5 separate regions of the Homo sapiens genome follow, and regions 1, 2, 3 and 4 are each reported to be linked to region 5. Evidence: microRNA targets listed by miRTarBase, many of them from high-throughput screens and not tested one by one. Region 5 holds a microRNA gene; each other region holds the end of a gene's coding sequence.
What was found. The annotated mature microRNA hsa-miR-96-5p reads UUUGGCACUAGCACAUUUUUGCU and lies in region 5 at 2,720-2,742, shown strand. An mRNA with a match to its seed (bases 2 to 7 or 8) in the 3' UTR can be bound and repressed. Matches are read on the target gene's strand: a 7mer-m8 pairs with bases 2 to 8, a 7mer-A1 pairs with bases 2 to 7 and ends in A, and an 8mer does both.

Region 1 (4,579 bases), not on the chromosome of region 5:
CCATGCCAACATTACTAACAGTGAACTATTACAAAATTTCCTGGTTTATCTTTTGTAATCCACATGGGTAAAAGGAGGAGAACATTTTCTTAAAGGGAGGTAAGAGGTAAACAATACTGGTTATGCTTCAGTGTTATCCTTACCACACTTTTTTTCCTTCTTAGGAAGAATGGACTGATGACGACCTGGTAGAATCTCTCTAACCATTTGAAGTTGATTTCTCAATGCTAACTAATCAAGAGAAGTAGGAAGCATATCAAACGTTTAACTTTATTTAAAAAGTATAATGTGAAAACATAAAATATATTAAAACTTTTCTATTGTTTTCTTTCCCTTTCACAGTAACTTTATGTAAAATAAACCATCTTCAAAAGAGCTAGAATAGCACCTGTTTTGAATATTCTTATTCCATCGTGACTAATATCAAATTAAAGCTGCAACTCATTTGCCTAATTTTTTAAGCAAAATATGATAGGCAAACCTATGCTTTTTTTAAAAAAGGCACCACAAAAAACAAAACTTAGTAGCCAGCTTTAAAAGTGTTAAGGAATGTGTTTTGCCCTCTAGAAACCTTTATAAATGGCTTTTTGAATGCCATCCTGATATATTTAGCTATTTGTCCATTACTATTAAACTGCAGAAGGTATTTCAACTGTTACATGGTACTGAAAGCCAGTCGTCTGGGTAATGAATATTATTTTTCTTTAGTTACCCGAAAACATTTCCAAATGGGTTTTTAAAAAAAACCAGATATATGATTTTGAATAGCTGTCTACATCAAACTCTTACGCTAGTATAGATAAGTAGGTAGCAGCAAATTGTATATTCAGTTGTGGTTGTTTTTTAATTTTGTTTTGATGTAAGGTCTTGCTATGTTGCCCAGGCTGTCTCAGACTCCTAGGCTCTAGTGATCCTCTGCCTCAGTTTTCTGAGTAATTGGGACTACAGGCACACATCACCACAGCCTTATAATTAACCTATTAGATCCTATAAGTGAATCCGTGTAAGTAGATTATAACAGTTACTAGGAATTTTGCAGATTAAATATGTTAGAGAAATGTAATTCAAATTGAAATGAGTCAATATAAAAATATGAAAGCACAGACTATTACAGCAAATTACTTACATATGAATCATGGCCAGCTGTATTTCACTATGTGACCTTGGTAAGTTATTAAACCTCTAAGTGCCAGTTTCCCACACTGAAAATGGGGAAGATAAAAATGCCTACTCTTCATAGGATTAATTAGAATAGTACCTGCATACACTAGTATTCAGTAAGTGTTAACTATTATAATTGGAACCAAACTGTGGACGTCTGTTTACCAAGCCAGATTTTTTTCAGGAAAACTGGCTTGAAGGAATTCCGAGTAATTCAAGTGTCCTGAATCTAATTAAATTGCACAAATACACACACCTCCTCAGTCTCAGTACATCCCAGGCTGTACTTTCCAGAAAGGTAGGTACCATTATAGTTACATCTATTTTAAGGCAATACTTACTATATGCATATTCATCTCTCTAACAATAATTCTTTACACTGTAGGCTTGAGTTTTGTGGGTTTTTTTTTTTTCTCATTCCAGAGTGAAAGGAATAAAATTCGTGATGTGAGATTTTTACAAAAGCAGAGTGGAAGAAGCCAAAAGTTATAAATCCTCCATCGCAGTCCTAGTTAAATATATTGCTGCTAGGCTCTAGACAGAATTACAAGATGTTCACAATTTGTCTCATTTTCCCTTTCAGATCGCCAAACTTTGGCATCAGAGCAAGGTCCACACTTATCACTGAAAATTTTCCCACCCAGCCCCATTAAAAACGTTAAAGTGTGAGAGATTTTATTTCAACACTGACAAGCTAGTTACTAGAGGGCCTACAAAGGTAAGTAACAAGTTTCCATTTCAACTTGAGAGACAAATGATGTTAAAATATAAGAAGCAGGGTAAGTCAGGTTTGTGATTTTAAATAAAAGGGAGAAGGATTTCAGACTGAGGAATGACAGGTTAGTATGGCTAAAGATTGAGGTGTGATAAATGGGAGCCAAAGTGCACAGCAAAAATATCTTGACTAATCCATATCCTCCCTGTCTTCTATCATGTAACCAAGGAAGGAGACCACCTGGGATACTATGTTGGTCCAAGTCCAGCTAAAAAACAGAAGGGGTGGAAAGGAGAGTAATTTGATAAAAGAGCCAAGAAGGGAGAGAATGGAATGAATTGAGCTGATTTCAAGGAAAAGGAGCATGGGACATGTTGAGATTTTTGGTATCAGTGTTAAACGGTGATTGAAGCCACATAGGTTAGCAGCCCCCATAGAAATAACTGCCTTTTGTAGCTTGGAACTACTAAGCAGACATCTTTTAAGCCCTTAGCATTTTTTTTTCCTGTATTTTATACATTAGAGGAATAGCATAAAGTGTTGCTCTTGGAATCTAGGGCTTTCCTTACTGTGGGAACACCTCCTTGGGTTCCTGTCTCACTCACTTTGATTACCAATGTCATTCTGCCACGTATGTTCCATATGTCCTATCTATCTGCCCTGCACAATTATGAGAGGGAAGGAATTATTGCATTTATAAAATCCTTTTCAAAAGAGGCCATTAGCAAAAATACTAATCTAAAGCTTCAGCTTCTCCCTGGGCCTTGCTCTGATGCTAAGGTTTAAACTGCCCCTGAAGGAGGAAGAAAATAAATAAATTAAATGCTTAGCTCTTTTAGACAGAAGTAATCAATTATGCAAGATATCCCTTGGTTTTATTTTAACTTAACCTTTGTGAATACTTCACAAAAATACACATACAGAAGTAAATAAAACTATACAGTTGAACTAAATATCCAGCAGATACAACAAGTAGTCAGAAGTTCAAAGATGGATAAGTTAGGCAGCTGATGAGGTTGTCTGCATAATCAAAGGGGTAGCACAAATAATGAACAAATAACTTTTAACAAAAGCATTCTAGTTAACATAAAAGAAATTGGTAGTCTATAAAATGGTTGAATGGGTAACATGCATTGATCAATACAACAACCAATAATATTTACTGAATTCAAACTATTTACTTGTAAACATTTAACAAAGCATTATGAGATCTAAATACAGTCTTTGACAATTTCAACAAAATAAGTCGTATGTTTAAAAAATAAAGCTGATGAGCAATAGATCATTCTATATATTTTCTTTCAACAGTTCCAGCAAGAGAAATAGCAGAGTATTTTTTAAAAGTATACAGCAAAGATTGTTCCTATTATAATGACAAACTCTGGAAACTGTAAATACAAATAATCATTGAACAGTCAAATGGTCATATTCCTAATCAGGAAGTAGTTACAGTAAGAACAGTCTGCAATCCAGTTATACACAATTGTCAATAAGAATGTGTTTCTTGTCAGTTGATTTCATAGTTCTTTCTCTAAGAGACAGCAAAACTTTGGCAACTGGGTGTACTGAAAATATATTTTGAAAGTTCGAGATATCAAGATACAGTCATAGCATTTCGTTTTGTGAAAGGTGGTCTGTACACCAAGGCTCAGAGGTTGTTAAAGATTGATTCCATGTGGAAATAGTGCAAATATCCTGCACAGATAGCTTACAAGGTTGCTGGCATAGTTATTCACCAGCAGAATCTTGGATTTTGTTTGCATAGCTCACACATCACTGGAATGTGGAAAAGTGTGCTATTTTTTGGCAAGAGCAAAGGAGACATTAAACTGAAGTGAATTACCATGTTGGACATGCTGAATCCATGCAGAACACTGGGGCGAAGGCTGCTACCTGACATCATTGGTTTTTGTATACTGGTTTTGTTTTTGTTGAAGCAGTTCTGTTATAGCCAGAAGCTTTTTCAATACGTGCTAGACAGAGGAAAAATGGTATGAAAATAAATGAAAGCTCGGTCAGCAATTTCAGGATGGGAACCTGGATTTGAAAAAAACTGTATCAAAGCAAAAGGATGCATAAAATATTACCACAATTCCCCTCAAAACATAAGTCTCTATTATTCAGTCATTGGCTGAGTATTTCTGGTCATAACTAAGAGAATTTTTATACCCTAAAGTGAACAGAAATTTGTTTGTGTTTGGCATGCTCCTATTTTTTAGGCCAGAACTATCACACTATCACATGTTGTCAGAAGCAGTTTATCTCTCTTTTAAAAAAGGCTTTTTTTATTTAATATCTAAGGCAAGTCAAGTCATATTATTAGTTTTGAAAGCTGCGGGGGGAGGGGCGGGGAGAAACAGGACTTGAGGATTCTAGAATCTCAGGTTGTAGAGAACTCAGTCACCAAACTCAATGCTTTAATCCCTTCTACAAAATCCCTGCCAAATGGTTAGCCAGTGCGGTGACAGCATTCACTATCTCCTGAAACTACATTAGAAACTAGTCAAAACTGTCCCTGTGGTCACTTCCTCTCAGTAGCCCTTATGTCAGCTGAGGACATTCAAAGTGTAACTCATTTTGTTCTATATCTCCAATATCTTAATTGACCTGGTATTAAGTCCCTTCAAATTCTGGTCTGGTCTTTGAATACATCCTTATCTGTATCTGTTTGGTGCAGATGGCAGATAGAAGTCTATCAATGTA
Region 2 (4,579 bases), not on the chromosome of region 5:
TGCCTCCTTGATTTTAGCAAATGGGGAACAGAAGGAATGGAGGCCCTTCTCTGCATGCCTCAGGAGGCCTGAGCCCCAGGGGCCTAGACCTGTGGGGGCAGCGGGCCAGGCCTGAGCCTCCATTCCTTCCCCAGCCCCTGGCCCAGGGTCAAAGGAGAGATGGCAGCCCCTCCCCCGCATGCATGCACCTCAGCTGGCAGGAGGCCAAGCCTCTGGCCGCAGGGTCTAAGAGCCGGGGCTTACCCAAGCTCAGCTGAGGCCACCCGAGCCCCAGGGAGGAAGAAGGCCCTGTCCCCCTGTCGCCACTGCTCTCCCTCCCAGCCTTCAGTCTCTGCCCCTTAGCAGGGCCTGGCCAGGCAGAGTGTTATCACCAGTCATCTGCAGGCTTTAGCCATCCAGCCCTTTCCCCTGCTCAGGGCTGGGGTTGGACGGGGTCTCCTCCTCCCACAGCTCCCTCCTCCACCCCTCACATACATACATAATTTCTTGGCCTAGCCAAACAAGTCCAGGCCACTGAATGGCACCAGAGGGGTCTGTGGTCAGCCACCCCACCTTGAGGGCAGCACAGGCACCACGGGGTGGAGGGGAGGGGGAGGCTGCCGGAAGCCTCCAGATGCTGCCTGCCTGCCTGCAGAAGCCTGCAGTGGCTGCTGCTCCTGCCTCTGCAGCCGCCCCTCCTCCTCCACCCAGGCCCCAACTCAGAGGCTCCGCGGCCCGGCCAGCCCTCAGCTGCTCACAACCGATTCAGTCTCCCTCCCTCCCTCACGTGGGGAAAGCACAGCAGGGATGCGCGGCAAGAATGTACCTGTAGATGTGTACATACCACAGTGCTGTAATTTTGTATGTAGCAATCATGTAAATACATGTATGGATTTTATAATATACATATATAAAAATCTATAAAGGCATATTTTTAGAAAAACAGCACACCACTGCTTCTTTTGAAAATAGTCTGAATAAGAATAAAATGAATTTCTACAGAGCTTCCTGCCTCAGTCTCTGGGTATTTGCGGGGGGCGGGTTTGGTCTGAATGCAGCTGACATGTCAGACTCACCACTGGCTGCTGCTGGAGAGGTAGCAATAGTGGTTCCCCTGCACCCGGGCCACCTCAGATGCTGGTACTTACTTAACCAAGGGATTTGGCCAGGAAGGGCATCCTCCCCTGCCCCTCCCGCCTGGCACTGCCCCCTGCCAGTGCTGCAGCGTGCCATCCGCAAGGCAGGCCTGCCAACGCTGCTTCCCAGGCCAGCAGGGCCCTAAAGCTTGGCAGAAACTTCAAGCCAGAAAGAAACCACGCCAGGCAAAGGCTTCCACTGCATCCTTCCAGGCATGTGGAGGATAAACACGGAGCTTCCCCTGGCATCTTACCACATGTGCTCCCAGTCCAACTAGGGGGAGACTCAACCCTGGCCCACCTGTTCATGGAGAAAATGGACCTGGCTTCTGGAAGTGTCCCAAGGGCCTCGACAGGCTCCTGTGCAAGACTTAGGCCAAGAACAGGGAAGAGCAGGACACGGTGGGTGGGAAGAAGCCACGGCCACTCAGCACATCTCTGGAGGGAGAGCAAACAGACCCTGGAAGAAAATTTGGCAGCTTGAACCTTTATTTTTAGTATTTTTTTAAAAAGCATAATTAGAAACTTTCAATACAGAAATACTCCTAGCAAACCATTGAAAAGTGGTGTTTGTTTGACAGGAATTTCACATCAGGTCCACTAGGACGTCGGTCCAGCCCTGAGTCCCCACCCCCACCCCATAACCCCCATTCATGCGTGTAACAGTGGGACAGGCACACTGTCATGACCAAAATCACCCCAATACCTGGGGCTGATGTCCAGCTGCCAGAAGCCATGGGGGCTTCTAGCCTGGGCTGGAAGCCCCCAGGAACCCCCCTCTTATTGCTTGAATTTGCAAGCACACCCTCGCTGGCCTCGCCTGATCGCTCAGAGGCCAGCATGCCCCCCGCCCACCGGCACAGGAGCCCCAGGCACCGTGCATCCTCAGGGCCCGTGGCCAACCAGGACAGTCCCAAGGACGGAGACCCCGCTTCTGCTCCTGCCGCCCCCGCCCCCGACCAGATGAGGCTGCCTGCTGGTCAGCCCTGCAGCCCCCTCCACAGCACCCTCCTTCCCAGGCCCATGGGGCTCCCCCACCCCATCCCGTGGCTCCAAAGTGAAGGCCTGTCCCAGAATCACCAGCTTTTGGCAGTTTGGGCAAGTGGAGAGTCGGTGAGAAGAAACCCCCAGTTTTTATTGATTAAAAACCCATCCACAGTGCTAACATGGAAACTGCAGTGTGATCTGTGATGTGATTGTCCAATCAGGGCTCTCCCTGGAAATCGCCTAGGAAAGGAAATCTAAGGAAACACATCCTGGTGTTAAACTCGGTTCTTCCCAGGTCACTTGATCCCTGTAGTGGGAGGGGAATGAGGTGTCCGGGCTGGGGGTCGGGGAGCAGTCATCAAGTGCAGATGACCCTGGTTGTTCTCCAGGGCACTGGGGCGTGTCAAAACTGGCCGCCCCAGCCATTCCTTCCCACCCGCCAGGAAATCCTCTTGCTACCTTTGTCCTGACAAAGGTTAGGACAGTGACCAGGGCCTGTCCATGGTCCCCACCCAGAGGCCCCAGGCATGCACTCCCCACAGTGCCCGAGGCTGCAGTGTAGACTCCTGACCTCCAGTGGGAGGCAACTCGGACAAGGGTGGGAGGCCCCTTCTCCGCTCCCACCAAGAAAGCCCAAGAGTCCAGCCCCACAATGGCAGGAAGCCATTCATTTTTTTCTAAAAACAGTGGACACAAGTGGGGTGGCCTCAACTTTTGCTGCTGTGCCAATCAAACCTCAGGGAAAGAAAATAATTGTGAGGAATTTAATTCACTTGATTTGGCTTCATTTTCTTGATCTGTTAAAATAATCCTCCCATAGCCCCCCTGCCAGCCCCATCTCTGCACGAACCTACCCCGACCTTTCTGTTGGAACTGAAACCTGTTGGTGTAAATGAGAAGCCATGGCTGCCCTGGGTTTGGAGCTCAGAGGCATCTAGAAGGCAGGACAAGAAATCTGTTGGCCAAAGGGCAAGACCTGCCACCTCTGTGGAACTGCAGGGCCTGCCTTGAGACCAGGTTCCCCAGCTCCCAGAATGGCTGTGGGGACAGGACAACGGGGAGGGAAGGGAGCTGGCACAGGCCCCGGAGAAGGGGCAAGACCCTGTGCAGCGGGGACAGAGGCTGACAACCTGTCGGAGAGAATGAGCAACGCGGAGCCCACTCCACTGGCACGGGCTGGCCGCAGACGCAGCTAGAACGTGCCGCTGTCTCCTCAGGACGCTGCTTGCAGTAAGATGGGCTGGGGAGGGGCGCGGGGAGGGTCTGTTGCAGCAGGCTGGCATCAAGAAGGCAAAAGCCAGAGCAGGACGTGGTGTGCGGCCGGGTAGAGCAATATACACTATGTACAGACTCTGCGAATCAGTCCGCTCGGCGGGCAGCGTCCTCGCCAGGTCCAGGCGCCTTGGCCGGGGAGGAGGGGGCACCAGTAGGGAAGGGCGGGCTGGTCCAACACCTTCTTGGCACTCGAGGAGGGCGGGGGAGGAAGTGCCGATGGCACCTCCCGATACAAAAACATGGAGAGAATTCTTTAAATAACGGCACGAAACTGAGACTGTCCCCCGAGGAACCTCCGTGGGCCTCGGGCTGGGGGAGGGACCGCAGTGCAGTCTCTGCAGTGGACTGGGTGCCATTAGCAGCAGCGTTTCTTTCGTTTACTGTTCTTCGTGAGCTTCACCACATCGTTCTGTTGTTGCTGCTGCTGTTTTGCCAGGTTGTCTTTCTTTGCTCGGAGGACCAGCTCCGTGATGCAGTTGAACATCTGTGGAGAGGAAAGAGGAAGGGCCCGCCTCAGACCTGGCCAGGAGGCCCCTGCTGGCCTGCACGGCTGCCTCCCCGCCTTCCGGGGCCCAGCTCTTTCTACCTGTGCATTTTTGGTATGTATGTCTTCAAAGCCTATTCTAGAAGGAGGTGGTGAATTATTTTATTTAAAGGTCAAAAAGGAACAACATTGCTAAAACCCCACCTCTACAAAAAACACAAAAATTAGCCGGGAGTGGTGGTGCACACCTGTAGTCCCAGCTACTTGAGAAGCTAAGGTGGGAGGATTACTTGAGCCCAGGAGATCGAGACTACAGTGGGCTGTGAACACACCACTGCACTCCAGCCTGGATGACAGAGTTAGACCCTGACTCAACAAATAAATAAGTCTGAAAAAAGGAACACCATCAGAGGCCCATGAGCTGTGTGGACTTGGGGAAGTCAATCTCACAGGGGTTTTCCAGTCCTTCTTTTAGAGAGACCAACCCCTTTCCTTCAGCTGGAATCTTTTTTTTTTTTTTTTTTTTGTGAGATGGAGTCTCGCTCTGTCGCCCAGGCTGGAGTGCAGTGGCGTGATCTCAGCTCACTGCAAACTCTGCCTCCCTGGTTCACACCATTCTCCTGCCTCAGCCTCCCGAGTAGCTGGGACTACAGGCGCCCACCACCACGCCCGGCTAATTTTTTTGTATTTTTAGTAGAGACAGGGTTCCACCATGTTA
Region 3 (4,579 bases), not on the chromosome of region 5:
CACTAGTCCAATGGCCCTGAGGCCCCTACTCAGTGGCAGAAGGAGTTCTCGGAGTATTATGTCTATCTTTGGACTTCCTGATCACCCTTTCCTGTCCCTGGGTTGAATCAAGACTTGGATCGCATGCAGATTACACTGGTACACATCTAGAGGAATGAGTTGGAGTATGTGTTGGGGTCACCTTTGAGGAGGGCCTTTGAGAGATGTGTATTCAGAATTACTGTCAAGGAAGAGTTAGAGGGACCAGGGGTGTTTAAATGTGAGAAGAGTTGACCAAGACAGAATCTGAGAAGTATTTTCATCTATTTTAAGAGCTGGCATCTAGCGGAGGGATTAAAGACCACCAGTGGGTGACATACAGAAATGGACTTTAACTCAACTGAAGAATGCATCTTCTAAAACCACAGACAGCAGGGGCTTGTAAGGAACTGAGCTCCTGGTCACTGGAAGTGGGCACTAATGACTAGGTGGCTGTCTGTCTGCAGTGGTAATCATGAGAAGGATGGACCGCCCCCGCTCTCTGCCGCCACAATACAATATTCTTCATTAAGATTTGATGTGTCTAGAATTCCACAGTTCCTGTGCATGCCCAGTGTCTAGAGCTTGCTATTAAGTACTTGTTTACTTTTGTACAGAGAATGGCTTCAGGCAATAGGAATAAAGAAATCACACAGCTGAATACACCAAGTTATTACACTTCAAAAGAAAACTTTAACACTGACACATGTGATATCTTACCATTTATTATAATTGCGCACATTAGTGTGGATTAAGTATGATTAGAAACACTAAGCAATTGAAAAGAAGCAAAAAGGTAATGCATCCCTCTTCCTCAGATCTGCAAAATTCTGTGCCTTTTTAGACATGAGAGAGGCTGTTTTGGATCTAAGTCAATAATGGCTCTTGCAAGATTTCTTTCAATGTCTTGCATGTTGGTTCTAAAACTCCCTTAAAGGCAGACTATACCTTGAACGGGGGAAGCCAGCCTATCTTGGGCCTCTTTACCTTGCCTTTCATCCACTGGTCCTGCACTGAGACTCAGGGATAGCACCTCTCACCAACGGGGTGACTTTTATTTCCTTCACTCATTCATTGAGTGCCTGTGTGTTAGTGTCCACCACGTGCCAAGTCTGATGTTGGGGACTACAGCTGAGGAAGAGCAGTTGGTATTTAGTGTGGGTACATGCCCTCCAGAGGAAATCCACTACAAATAAATGGAATGTTCCTCTCTGATCATTTGGCAGGAAGAACAAGCCCACAAGCCAATGTGCATAGGGCTCAGAAACTGGAGAAAGACGTAGACATTTTATAATTAAATCAAGAGCAGAGGCCCTCATTTTGTATCAGAAATACTCTAAGGTTGTTCTTCCTTTCAAGGAACTTACAGAGTGATGCTGGGCCCACAGATGGCAGAGTCCAGCTGAACCTGAGCAGAGGATCGGCTGACTGCATGGACAGGCTTACATCTGCCCAGCCATCCAACGAGTTTCCATGTCCCAAGTACCTGGGGCCCCAGCAGTTGCCACTAGCTTAAGGCAGAGTCTAGACAGGAAAATGGGTCACTGAAAGCTCTCTGCTCAGATCAGCTAGCCCCCTGGAGCTTTTCCTGGATTCACAAGCTCCTCTTTGGTAATGTCTGTGAGTCAAATCTGTTCTCAGCTGAAAGCATCTCAGTTTGGAGGCATTTTCATGGGCGGAGAGGAGGGAAAGGGGCAGCTTGGCCCTTGAAGTACTTCATGGGGGGGGGGATAATTCAGGGATCCAGGATGCCCAGAGGAAGAGTGTGATTTCACACCTTCTGCTCTTTGCAAGCCTATGCCTTTGGGAGGCCTGAAGGGAGGGTGTTAACCTGGCAGGAACTGTGTACCCTCTGCACAGTGCTTGGCACACACTGAGCACAAAATCAATGCTTGCTTTTGTGGGTGCTGCTCTGGGAAGAGCATGGGCTCTGTAGCGTTCTGCGCAATGCAATAGCCACCTCTCTGAGTTCCAATATCCTCATGTCTAAGATGGGATGAGAATATCACCTTCACAGGATTATTATGGGGATTAATGCCATTACTCTGTGACAGTGCCTGCTATGTGGTAGAGCCTCAAGAAATGTTAGCTGCTTTTCCACCTCCTTAATCCTGCTGGGATCTATACACCCTAAAACCCACTTGGGAAGATTTATGTGTGAAGTTCAGGGAGCAGAATTGAGGGCAAATTAATCAGCTATCAAGATTCCAACAGACACAGATATCACTTTGATCAGTAGCATCCTAAAATCACATCCTACTGAATTTAAACCTAATTGTGTAAATTTTCCAACACATGCCAACATACCTGTAAGGGAACACTCAAATATAGTGAAAGGTGAGTGGAAGACCAAATGAAAAACTGCTATATAACTCAATCAAAAGCAACTAACTACTTTTACAAGTGTATGGAAATTTAAAAAAAATAGATATGGCAAATAGACAAGCTAAACACTAGCCTATGCCAATCCCTAGCATTTGATGTCTGCAATTTACCCACCAGGGATCATCAACAGTCTTCAACTTGGCCCATTATAAGCCTCAAGGGAGTCAGGACACACTGAACCCTACACTTCTGCCCACTTAAACTCATTAGAAAGCCAATCTGTCTTAGGGAAGCCAAGATGGAATTCCTGTTTGATCCTCTTTGGTTGAGCCTGAAATGACATCATGGGCATAAAGCGCTTTCTAAGCTACAAGAAGCTACACACACAAGCAATTATCATAGCATCATTAAGATACGATATTGGATGTATGCAACTTCAACTTGAGAAGGGCAAAAGCATGAAGAAATCAAACAGGGAGGGAGGAGGTGAGGGAAGGGGAGACAGCAACTTGGGGCAAAACTGGGGACAGCCAAATTTGTCCACGAGTCATCAGCTTCTGATCAGCCTGGCGGTGGGGGGTCGCTAAAAGAAAACAGAAGTAGCCATGAGACTGGAAACACATCAGCTAGAGGCCCTCAGGGTGGGTGACTGCTCCAGTCATCAGGAGTTACCACCTAGCTCAAGGTGTGTCTTCTGGAGAGAAGACCATCAGCATGGAGCTAGTGGAAAGCCTGGTTGCTACTGCCTTCAAGGGATATATTCTGCTCTGTGCTCAGACACCGTGATAAATTCCACTGGCTATGAGCATGCAAACACACATCTTCAGGCAGTTCTCATAATGTGGCCCAGAGGCTTGTTTCACTGAGCACCATGGCTATGCAGTCCTGATCTGAAGCTATGCGAGTGACAGTGAACAGAGAGCCCTGGACAAGAATCCAAAGACCTGGGGTGAGGTCCTGATTCTACCTGGGTTTCTCCAGGTCCCCTCCCTTTCTATATCTTTATTTCCTTGTTGCAAAATGGGGCTAACAACAGCGGCCGAGCGAGTATCCCAGGGTAGCTAGAGGGCTCGGCTCAGGTGCTGGACGGAAGGTGTGATTTGGAAGTGTCCTCATTGAGGGCCTTTGTCCATGCCACCTAAGATCTCAAAGTATCACAAGGCATAGGGACATGAGGACACAAGGCCCCCTGAACATAAGGAAGAGCCAAGAAAGATAGCTGTGTCTGGGGCTGAGACTCCAGGAGAGACCAGGGTGCATCTCTACTCCTTAATGAGTCTCTTGGCCACTTGTCCTTTGCAGTGCCAGCACCCACCTAGAAGAGCTTCTCATAGCATTTCCCACAGTGAATGGTGTCACGGTGAATGAAGATCTGATCCAGGAGATCGCCCATCGGTTTACTGCAAATCCCACACTGAAAAGAAAAGCAAGCTGGAGGTCAACACACAAAGCAAAGCAAGAGGAATGAGTGGAGTGGGAAGGGGATGCCTGAACAAGGTGGGCGAGCAGATGCTGTGAGCCCGTGGCACATCCTGGACCTCAGGACTTGCAAACATCACAAAATAATACAAAAAACATCACAAAATAATACAAAAAAAAGCCTTTTTTTTCAGTAGGGAGTAGTAAGCACAGCTAGCAGCTCAGCTACTTTCAAGGGCCAGTGGGCAAGCAAAGGGGAACCTGTTTGGCATGATTTGACCAGAAATGTGTTTCCCTGTGGTCAGCCGGTTCTCAGGAGAAGCTGCTAAGTGGGGCATGTTCTGCATTGCAGCACTTACTTAACCAGGAGCAAGCAAAGTTCAGGCCCTGTGGGGAGGACAGAAGCCTGCCTAACATTCTGTCAAGGCAAAGGGGAGGGTTGTTTTTCTCAGTGCACCCAGAGGTGACACCCTAAATGGATTGGAACCAACAACCTGGGGTTACAAAGTGCCACACACTGTGGAGAATGGGGACCCCAATGTCACTTAGAATAAAATCCAAACTCTGTGCCCGCCAAGGCCTACATGATCTAGCCCACTCTGTCACTCCTGGCATTCTCCCACGCAAGCTAGAACACTCTAGTGCTTCTGCCCCAGGGCTTTTGCACTTGCTGGCCCTCTGCCAGAAATAGTCTTTCCTGAAAAGACCTCTTTTGTCTTCCCTACAGTACTAAGCATGCAGAACCACCAACACTCATCTACTGTCTTAGACTTGGAAGCTCATTCAGCTCCCAGTTGTGCAAAGCCTCTGCGACTAT
Region 4 (4,000 bases), not on the chromosome of region 5:
AGCTCTGCTCAGTTTTCTCCGTGGGGAAAGATCGGAACACTTACAAATGAGAACGGGACTTTAAGTAGATAGTATGCAATGGAAAACTGAGCCGGCAACAGTACTTAATGCTGGTTTTCTCAATAAAATCATTTTGCTGTGTAAACGCGCTTATAATGGGGATCTGTTATGAGTCTCAGGCAGGCGACATGAAAGCCGGCCTTTCAAAATCTGATTAGGTGGATAATGTTTGCAAACATGACGCCTGGCAAAACCGGTCTGATTCTAAGGTAAACTCATTTTGGACATAACTGATGTCTCACTGAGACAGCTTTTCAAAGCATGTCTGCAAACACCGGACCCCCGGGGACGGTGCGTGCGTGTAGGGGAGGGAAATTCCAGGGTTTCATATATCAAGATGACACACCCGCTGCACACTTCTCTTAGAAAGTCACGACGCACAGTACTGTGCGTCACAGGTATTGAGAAACACCACCATAGAGTCAATTGACTTTGTTTAACCTATAACCTTTTTTCCTCCCACATAGTAGGTAGTAACATCACACGGAAACAGTGCTCTGAAGACATTCTGGACACATCGTATACAGCACAGCCATTCAAATCAACGGCAACAGAACGCACGAAGAACCTGGTTTTCTTTCAAAGCATGAGCAGTTCTCATTTTACAACATGTGTTTTAACATAATTCAGAAAGTGCAATCTTTGCATGACAACCAGATAATTCTCAAAGGTTACTAGTGAGCTGATAAAATTAACGTTTGGCAAGGAGGTCATGGTTTACAGGTAGGCTGTCCGCTCACCAATGCTCAGAAAAATTCAGCAGAACATACTTTTCATATTTAGATCCGAAGAGAGGTGAGAGACATTCTACTCAAGTCATGGCTGGGCTTTCTGTCCTCAAACGAAATTGGGCAGGCCATTTGCGTGGTTTCTCTGGATAAGTTCCATTTATTAATCATTGTACAAAAAAATCTTGGCATTCATTTGAAGAGAAAAGAAGTTGCTATATCCAAATATTTAACATTTTAACATTGTGAAAGTTCAACGTTTATAACAGGGCTTTTTAAAATGGAGAAAAGTTTTGGAAAATTTTTAAAAAGAAACTTATGATTTATTAGAGTACAGGATCCAAAACACGTTTTTAGAAAAATATAAAGTGCCCAAATACCAACTTACACAGGTGATACAGGCTTCCTGGAGCCCCATGAAGCATTCATGAAGAAAGACATTTAAAAACAGTCTAGATACATATGTACAGCTGGGTCAGTAAAGGTAAAACCATCTTTCTTGACTTTGATGTGTCTAAGAAAAAAGGAAATCAATCAAACCAGAAAACCAACAATTGCAACTCTCAGCATGCTCAGGTTCTTATTAATGCATCTCATTCATATTAATTAATTCCGTATTATCAAACTTTCCCCTTTAAATGAAAGTAGTGTACAATCCTCCCAACCTTGGCGGGCCAGGTGCTGTGAGTGGTTACGTTTCCAGATGCAGGTTCAAATCCTTTGACTTTGGATTTGACTGATGAGGAACATGGACAGTGGATTAAATAGCTCATTCAGGCTGGAGGAGCCAGGGGCCAAATCCCCATCTCTTTCTAGTAACTGCTTAAAGCCTTCCCTTGCTATGAAGTGGTCTCAGGTGGCTTTCCAAACCTTGGTCACCCCAGGGTTTCCAAAGGGTAAACAAGCAGCAGGCATTCAACATGGGTGAGAATACTGCATGCAGATGGACAGACAGGTGCAGAGACAGGCCCCTAACGCCCCATTCACTAGAGCAACTGCATTATTTTAAATGTTGAGAGCAAAGTAACTAGGTCCTAACTTCGGAAGTTAGCTTCTATCGATTAATGACAAGATTAGCTCGCTTGAGAACTGGCAGGCCGAGAGTTGGTGGAGCTCCAGAGCTGCACAAAGGCGTGCAGTTACTCTGGGCTCAGTTACTGAGAACTTCGGAAAGGAGCCAGTGCCGTCCGAACACACGGTCAGGCTTTCCCAGAAGACGCCACAACAGGCTTCGTCCTGCTGCCGTCAGGACCCTGGCGGCTTGGAAAAGCAGATTCCAACACGCACATCTCCTTTCACACAAGTCCAACACTCTTCAAATGAAAGACATTCTCTCTCTTTCTAACCTGCCACATTCAAACAGGCCTTGAAGTGACTCTAAGGAATAACAAGAGGTGTGAAACCACTTTTTTTCCCTTCAAAACCTTTTTTTTTTTTTTTAAGGTTCATTAATTTTTTTTTTTCCTGATTACAAAAGCAAAACCTCATTTTTTGGTCTTTGAAGACCATGGAGTATGACTTCTAAGAGCAAACATTAACATCAGATTTGTATGTCTCACTACAAAAAGAACCCATCACTGATGTAAGACCTACTCATGATACTGAAGTAGATTTTTTAAATTAAAAAATAAAAGTAGTCATTTAAAATGGAGGAATTGTAGATGAGTATGGAAAAATCCATTCACAAAGTTCACTATTTGCATTTTCTAAAAGAATTTTATGTAATAAAATAGAAAACTAATGATTTATAGAGATGTGCATAAACTCAAGAGAGGAATATGGAAGGGAAAACTGTGTTATATTCCCATTTAAATTTAAAAAAAAAAGATAAAACACTTGAAATCTGTGTTTCACATATTAGAAAAAAATAAATTCAAATGATTCTAATTACCATTAGCTTGTTAATGTCTCCATCTCTAAGATGCTGCCAAGATAGCACACAACTTTACCTCTGAATATGCAACTAACTTCAGGGTAAAAAGACACACAGTCCTCACTCGGGACCGAACACGTTCCACAGAGAAATCAGAAGGAAATTATTGCAAATGCATAACCCCATCTGTCCAGCCAAGGAAATGTTCTGAGACAAATGCAGACAGACAGGGGAATGGAGTGAATACAAAGAATGATTACAGGAGCGTCGACTGTGAGACCTCATGAAGACAGAATGTCACAAACTGTCACCACAGGACAAGCATACAAGCCATGCCACTGACACAGTGCCTTTCAGATTAATTCACTAGTGTAGGCGGAGAGCAACATTGTCTTTGCAGCTGGGGAAGAGCACACGGTATTTAAACTTAGTAGGAGGCAACCAGCACTACTGGTGGAGTGGCTTTCCTGGTGCAGCAGGTCCCGAGGGCTCCGTGGAGACGTCTTCTTCCGGAGTCCCGTTCTCTTGGAAGATAGCAGCAGCAGCAAAGGTGCAATGTCCTCTCTAGACTTTACTCATCTATGTTCTCTTTCTTTGCACTGTAAATATTCTGCACCGTTTCATAGACAAACTCCAGATCTTCTGGATACCGGATCTCCAGCTCTGCGTTTGGGATGTAGTGAGTGCCAGTAAACTCTGAGAAATAGCGTCCCACGTCAGGGTGTGAGATTTCTTGAGGCTCCACGTTATATTCCAAGTTTTCTGTTGGTAAAGAGGCACACGGGCATTCTCATTACAATGTCCATTGCTGCCACACCTTTCATCCAGAGAACCTCCCATCACCCCTTCCAGGTGGCATTTTTGGGGTGGAGAAGGGAAGACTGAAGATGTTTATGGAGTCAGGAGAGGGTAATGGGAAAAGGGCAGCAAGTGGCAATCAGGAGAAGGTGGGTGGTGGCACGGGTGTCTCAAGAGCTCCCCACGGAACAGCAGGATCTTCCTCATCTCTAAGCAGGATGTCTGGCTCCAGCAAAACTCCAAAGGTCTCTTGGGGACTGGCAAACTAGAGACTCAACAGGTCTCTCTGACTGGACAATGGGACAACATTATCCCTGCCTGCTCTTTTTTTGGCAGTGGCTAAGTTTCTGAAGCTGCCATGTCACATGGTGACAAGTCTCGTACCTGCCACCCCTCTCCTCTATTCACAGGAGCCCCTCATGCAGACCACACTTTCCACCCGAGCTCCTTCCAACACTGGCCCTTAGCTTCCAACAGAGAGCAGCCTCTTTCCAGGGCTGCTGTGAGACCGTGGGATGAAAGGAAGGTGGCTTGCACCTCC
Region 5 (4,579 bases):
GGCCCCAGCCTCCCTCCACCAGGATGGAGAGGCCCCAGCGGGCGTGGCACCCCCCAGGCACTGCGGCACTTGGGCTTCCTGTCGCATTTGGGTTAGGAGGGGTGAGGCAGGCGCAGGGGAGGAACCTGGCCCAGCCGACTAGAACTGGAAGTGGAGAGGGATTTGGCTTTGCGAGCTGCTCCCTGTATTCCATCCTATGTCAGTTACAAAGATGAGGAAAACAGACCAAGGAGCTCGACAGAGATGCCACAATTTGAAGGAGCGTACGTGTTTGGCTGCTTTGTTACAGGGCTCTCTCCTCTACCTGGGGTCCCTTTTATTCCTTCCTGGGCTGGGGAGAGCAGAATCCCTGGCTCCATCTGTTCTCCAGCTCTAAGGCCTCTGTGGCTCCTTGGTTGCAAGGTGCTGCGTGTTCCCCTTCCCTAACACCTGCCTCTCCCCATCCTTGGCTGTCCCCAAAAGAAGAATGAAGAATTCTTTTTTTTTTTTTTTTTTTTTTTGTTGTTGTTGAGACAGAATCTCGCTCTGTTGTTGCCCAGGCTGGAGTGCAGTGGTGCGATCTCTGCTCACTGCAACCTCCACCTCCCGGGTTCAAGCGATTCTCCTGCCTCAGCTTCGGGCGCCTGCTACCACGCCTGGCTAATTTTTGTATTTTTAGTAGAGACGGGGGTTTCACCATGCTAACCAGGCTGGTCTCGAGCTTCTAACCTCAGGCGATCCTCCCGTCTCCCAAAGTGCGCTGGGATTACAGGTGTGAGCCACTGCGCCCAGCCAGAAGAAAGAAGAATTCTGCATTCTGTTTAATTATCCCAGGGTGAGGCTTCTTGGGAAAGATTTCTCAAAATAGATCTTCCCACCCCCACCCCCACCCCATGCTGAGCTGTCAGGGTGCTATTAAAATGCAGATTTCCAGGCAGGCTCAAGAATCTACATTTCAACAGGCTCCTTGGGTGATGCTTATGGCTACACCCTAAGCAATGTTCATAACTACCCACCCCATACTCTTTGCTAACACCCTGCCATCACCCCTTCCCCTCCCCACCCAAGGCTGGGAAGTCTGGTCTCTCTTCCTTAGTAGAGTTCAGAAAATTGTAGTAAGGGAAACTGAGGCAGAAGGCTGAGGAGTGACTTCCTGAGATCACCACCTCATCAAGCTGGATTGTCCTCTGGGGAGATAGACCAGCTAGAAGGGCAGAGCCCTGTAGTGGGGGTGTGTGGGAGCAGGACAAAGAGTCCTCGGGAGCAGGAAGGGTGGAGCATTAAGCAGTGTCTAGGGGAGAGCGGATGGCTTTGGCCAAGGTACCCAGATGGAGCTCTGAGGTCCACGGGAGGTAGTTCCTGGGGGTAACATCGCCAAGAGGTCTGCATAGTTTCTGGGCCAGGGCACCTGCTCTGACCCTTCCAGGATATTTTCTAGCCACCCTGCCTTCTGGGCCACCGCTGACCTGGAGTAGGCTGAGACTCTAGTGGCCACTCTGCGGAGGCCCCAGCTTGCCTGCCCTGGGTGCCAGCTCCCCAGAGACCCTCCCTCCCACCCTCTCCCTTCTTCCCGTCCTTCCCCAGGGCCTGTGACACCAGAGGCAGGGCCTCCACAGCAACTTCTCTCTAGGCAGCTGCTCTGGCAACCACTGATGCAACCTTCCCAGCCCCTCCCTCGCTCCTGAGCCTCCGCTTTCCTCCGCAGTCACTCCAGAGCCAGCCAGGAGCCACTCCCTTGCTAGAGTGCATCCGTGCCTCCGGCTCCCTCCAAGCCACCTGGGTGGCTGCAGGACTTCTCTTCTGCCCTCCTTTCCTGGCCTTTTCCTGCCTTGATCCTAGGCCGGCAGCAGAGATGCCCAGCCTGGGCGGTTCACAGTCTGGCCCAATCTGGTCTGGTTTGGGATGGGAGTGGGGGTGAGCAGCAGATTCGGTTTGTTCCTGGGGCTCTGTTTCTGCCACAGGGCAGGCTGGGGGGTGGAGGATAATGGAGACCAAAGTGCCTAGGAGCCTGGGCTGCTGGTGTCTGGGCTCAGAGGCTACGAGAGGCATCTTGGATGTCCCACTGGTCACTGCCCCTGTGGCAGGTTGGGTAGAGAGGAGGCTCTGGCCAGCTGCTTGCCTCTCCGAGCCAGAGTTACTCTGGCAAGGAGATGGATGGTCCTGACCCACTCCCTCCCCAGCCTGGAGGCGCAGTCTGGGTGATGTGGAGGGATGTGGGCCTTCAGGTGGAGATAGGAGACACCTTGGTGTGGTCTTCTCCTCTGCAAGGCCAGAAGGTCAGCTCCTCTCCCGCACTGTCCCTGTCTCCTTGAAGGTCATCTTGGGCTGATGGGGCATGTGGATCTTGTGAAGAGGTGGGATGGGGTGGGGGGTAGAGACCGTAGCAGCCGCTGCTGAGGGCCTGCTGGGGGGCCCCCAAGGGAGTGGGCAGGCTAGGAGCAGGGAACGGGCATCGTGGGCCGCTGGTCTCTCCGCAGGGTCGGCAGGCCGCAGAGTGTGACTCCTGTTCTGTGTATGGCACTGGTAGAATTCACTGTGAACAGTCTCAGTCAGTGAATTACCGAAGGGCCATAAACAGAGCAGAGACAGATCCACGAGGGCCTCCGGAGCACCTTACCCACTTCTGCCTTGAGTGCTCCTAGACGTCGGAAACAGGCTGCTTCCAAGGGTGCAGGGATGCAAGGCCCCTCGTCCAGTGTGTCCCCAGAGAGCCCGCACCAGTGCCATCTGCTTGGCCGATTTTGGCACTAGCACATTTTTGCTTGTGTCTCTCCGCTCTGAGCAATCATGTGCAGTGCCAATATGGGAAAAGCAGGACCCGCAGCTGCGTCCGCCTCCCCTGCATCCTTGTGTCAGGGCCCCAGCCTGCTCCTCCTCAAGGCCTCCTCACCGCCTCCCCAGCCCATCTGGCTCAGCTGCTGTGTGAGGGCCCAGCGCTGGTGGGCAGCCAGATCGCCTTACACTGCCTGGGGCCACGGTAGAGCTGGGAGCCCAGCAATCTGAGCTGGGCCAGCAGATGGGGCCGCCCAGGGCAGAGGTGGGGGAGTCTGAAACCATCTGTAGGGCCATCCTGAATGGTGCCGTGGGTTGGAAAGGCCCAGCCAGGCTCCCAGCACACGCTTGGGGTGAGACCTTGGCTGGCAGCACAGGGCCTGGTCTTTTCTGCTGCAGGTTGTGAAGGGGGCAGCTCCAGGCAGGTGGGCTGCCCTTGAGGTCAGCCTGGGTGTTTCCAGGGGGGCTACCGTCTCTGGAGCTGTAGCCTGCTGTGGAGTGGGTCATCTCCGAACAGCTCCAAGAGGAGGATACTTAGTGGGGCTCGGAGTTGGAGGGCATTTTCAGGCCTGCCCCTAGAAGGTTCTGGAGCAGAGGCCAATGTTCCCCTTCACACACCACACACTGGTAATGTAGCTTCCTGGGTCCCTGGATCTGGGCTATGACTAACTGGCCTATGCTCTCCATCTGGGTGTCAGGTGACATTACATATATAATCCCAACAGTTCCCACCTCAGCCCTGTGGGGCTTGTAATTTTTTAAAATAGTTATCTCATAGATGGGGAACCTGAGGCTTTGAGAGGAAAGGCTTGGCTGAAGAGGTTGGTGAGTGGTAGAGCTGGGTCACTGTGGCTCTTCCGCCACCAGCCACACCTTCCATGGAGGCACCCAGGGCCTGGAGGTGTCTCAGCTCTGAATCTACAGGCCTGGGCTCCCAAGGATGCCCCAGATGGCAGAGACTGAGGCTGGGAGGCCTGGACCTAGTCTGTCAAAGCTGGGGAGAGCCTGGCCAGCCAGGCTGGACCCATGTGAAATCTGGTGGTCAGCAATCAAGCAGGAGACCAGTGGCCGACTTGGGACCAGCTGGGAGCTATCATGCCCCAGGTCACTGGGCCAGCCCCTGATGGGGCTGCTTCTCCCCAGGGAGCCTCAGGCAAGGGTTGGTGGACTTAGCCCAGATCAGTGGGAGTCATTTTAGGTGTCTGAGCCAGGGAGTGCCCGGGTGGGGGATGTGTGTGGTTGAAGCTGGCAGCTGGAGGATGACGGGTCCAGTTGACTGCACAGCAGGAACATGGTGACCAGTGCTGCCTGCCTGGGTGCCCTGGGGACTGCCTTGGGTGGGTTGGGCCTTTTTTTTCTTGTCAGTTAGCTATCACCAAACCGCGAGGAGCCCCCAATAAATTCCCTCTGGGGTGTGGTGCCCGTGTTTCTCTACAGAAGCTCTCCAAGCCCCTGCAGAAAAAAGGAGGGGCTTGTTTATTTCAGGATAGAAGGGGACTTCTGCCCTGGTGAGGTGTCCCTGTAGCTAGGTCTCTCTTCTGATGGCCCCAGCTCTCCCTCTGCCCCTCGGAACCTGGCTGGCCTGTGCCGCACCCTGTCTCTGTGCTCCAGTCCTCCGCCCCGGGTGCTTCCTTAGGGCGTCCTGCTGCAGGTCCCATGGGATAGGAAAGAAGGGATTTCCCGGCCTGAGTGAGAATGAGCCCTGGAGGTGGGGTGGGCACAGAGACCCAGCAAGGGGGGGTGGAAGGCCCCTGGCAGTGACCGGTTCTAGAGCTTTTCCCTGGAGCCTCTGGAGTGTCTGGCCAGGGTTCTGCTCCTTCCTGCCTAG

Region 1: miRTarBase lists RASA1 as a target of hsa-miR-96-5p. Seed matches in the 3' UTR shown: 7mer-A1 at 3,679-3,685 and 7mer-A1 at 3,425-3,431.
Region 2: the mRNA of RAB35 is a reported target of hsa-miR-96-5p. Seed matches in the 3' UTR shown: 7mer-m8 at 3,560-3,566, 7mer-A1 at 2,201-2,207 and 7mer-A1 at 1,587-1,593.
Region 3: miRTarBase lists ZNF185 as a target of hsa-miR-96-5p. Seed matches in the 3' UTR shown: 7mer-m8 at 1,882-1,888 and 7mer-A1 at 1,237-1,243.
Region 4: miRTarBase lists FBXO21 as a target of hsa-miR-96-5p. Seed matches in the 3' UTR shown: 7mer-A1 at 758-764.

Annotation. Positions count from the first base shown.
Region 1 is chr5:87,390,070-87,394,648 of GRCh38, reverse strand. RASA1 (RAS p21 protein activator 1) reads right to left here. Exons shown (of 25, transcript NM_002890.3): 25 at 2,733-3,849. The coding sequence ends at 3,766. CCNH (cyclin H) reads left to right here. Exons shown (of 9, transcript NM_001239.4): 9 at 165-375. The coding sequence ends at 203. Among named protein-coding and RNA genes, the nearest start is that of CCNH, 21 kb to the left of the region's middle.
Region 2 is chr12:120,093,513-120,098,091 of GRCh38, forward strand. It overlaps RAB35 (RAB35, member RAS oncogene family), which reads right to left. Exons shown (of 6, transcript NM_006861.7): 6 at 1,587-3,861. The coding sequence ends at 3,733. BICDL1 (BICD family like cargo adaptor 1) reads left to right here. Exons shown (of 10, transcript NM_001367886.1): 10 at 1-982. Among named protein-coding and RNA genes, the nearest start is that of RAB35, 21 kb to the right of the region's middle. RefSeq lists an enhancer at 1-572.
Region 3 is chrX:152,969,621-152,974,199 of GRCh38, reverse strand. It overlaps ZNF185 (zinc finger protein 185 with LIM domain), which reads right to left. Exons shown (of 25, transcript NM_001395254.1): 24 at 3,659-3,757; 25 at 726-2,926. The coding sequence ends at 3,659. Among named protein-coding and RNA genes, the nearest start is that of PNMA5, 22 kb to the left of the region's middle.
Region 4 is chr12:117,142,855-117,146,854 of GRCh38, forward strand. FBXO21 (F-box protein 21) reads right to left here. Exons shown (of 12, transcript NM_015002.3): 12 at 1-3,423. The coding sequence ends at 3,233. Among named protein-coding and RNA genes, the nearest start is that of TESC-AS1, 45 kb to the left of the region's middle. RefSeq lists enhancers at 1-1,137, 538-617.
Region 5 is chr7:129,772,902-129,777,480 of GRCh38, reverse strand. It overlaps MIR96 (microRNA 96), which reads left to right and starts at 2,712; the gene lies at 2,712-2,789. MIR183 (microRNA 183) reads left to right here and starts at 2,467; the gene lies at 2,467-2,576. RefSeq lists enhancers at 1-543, 3,387-4,248.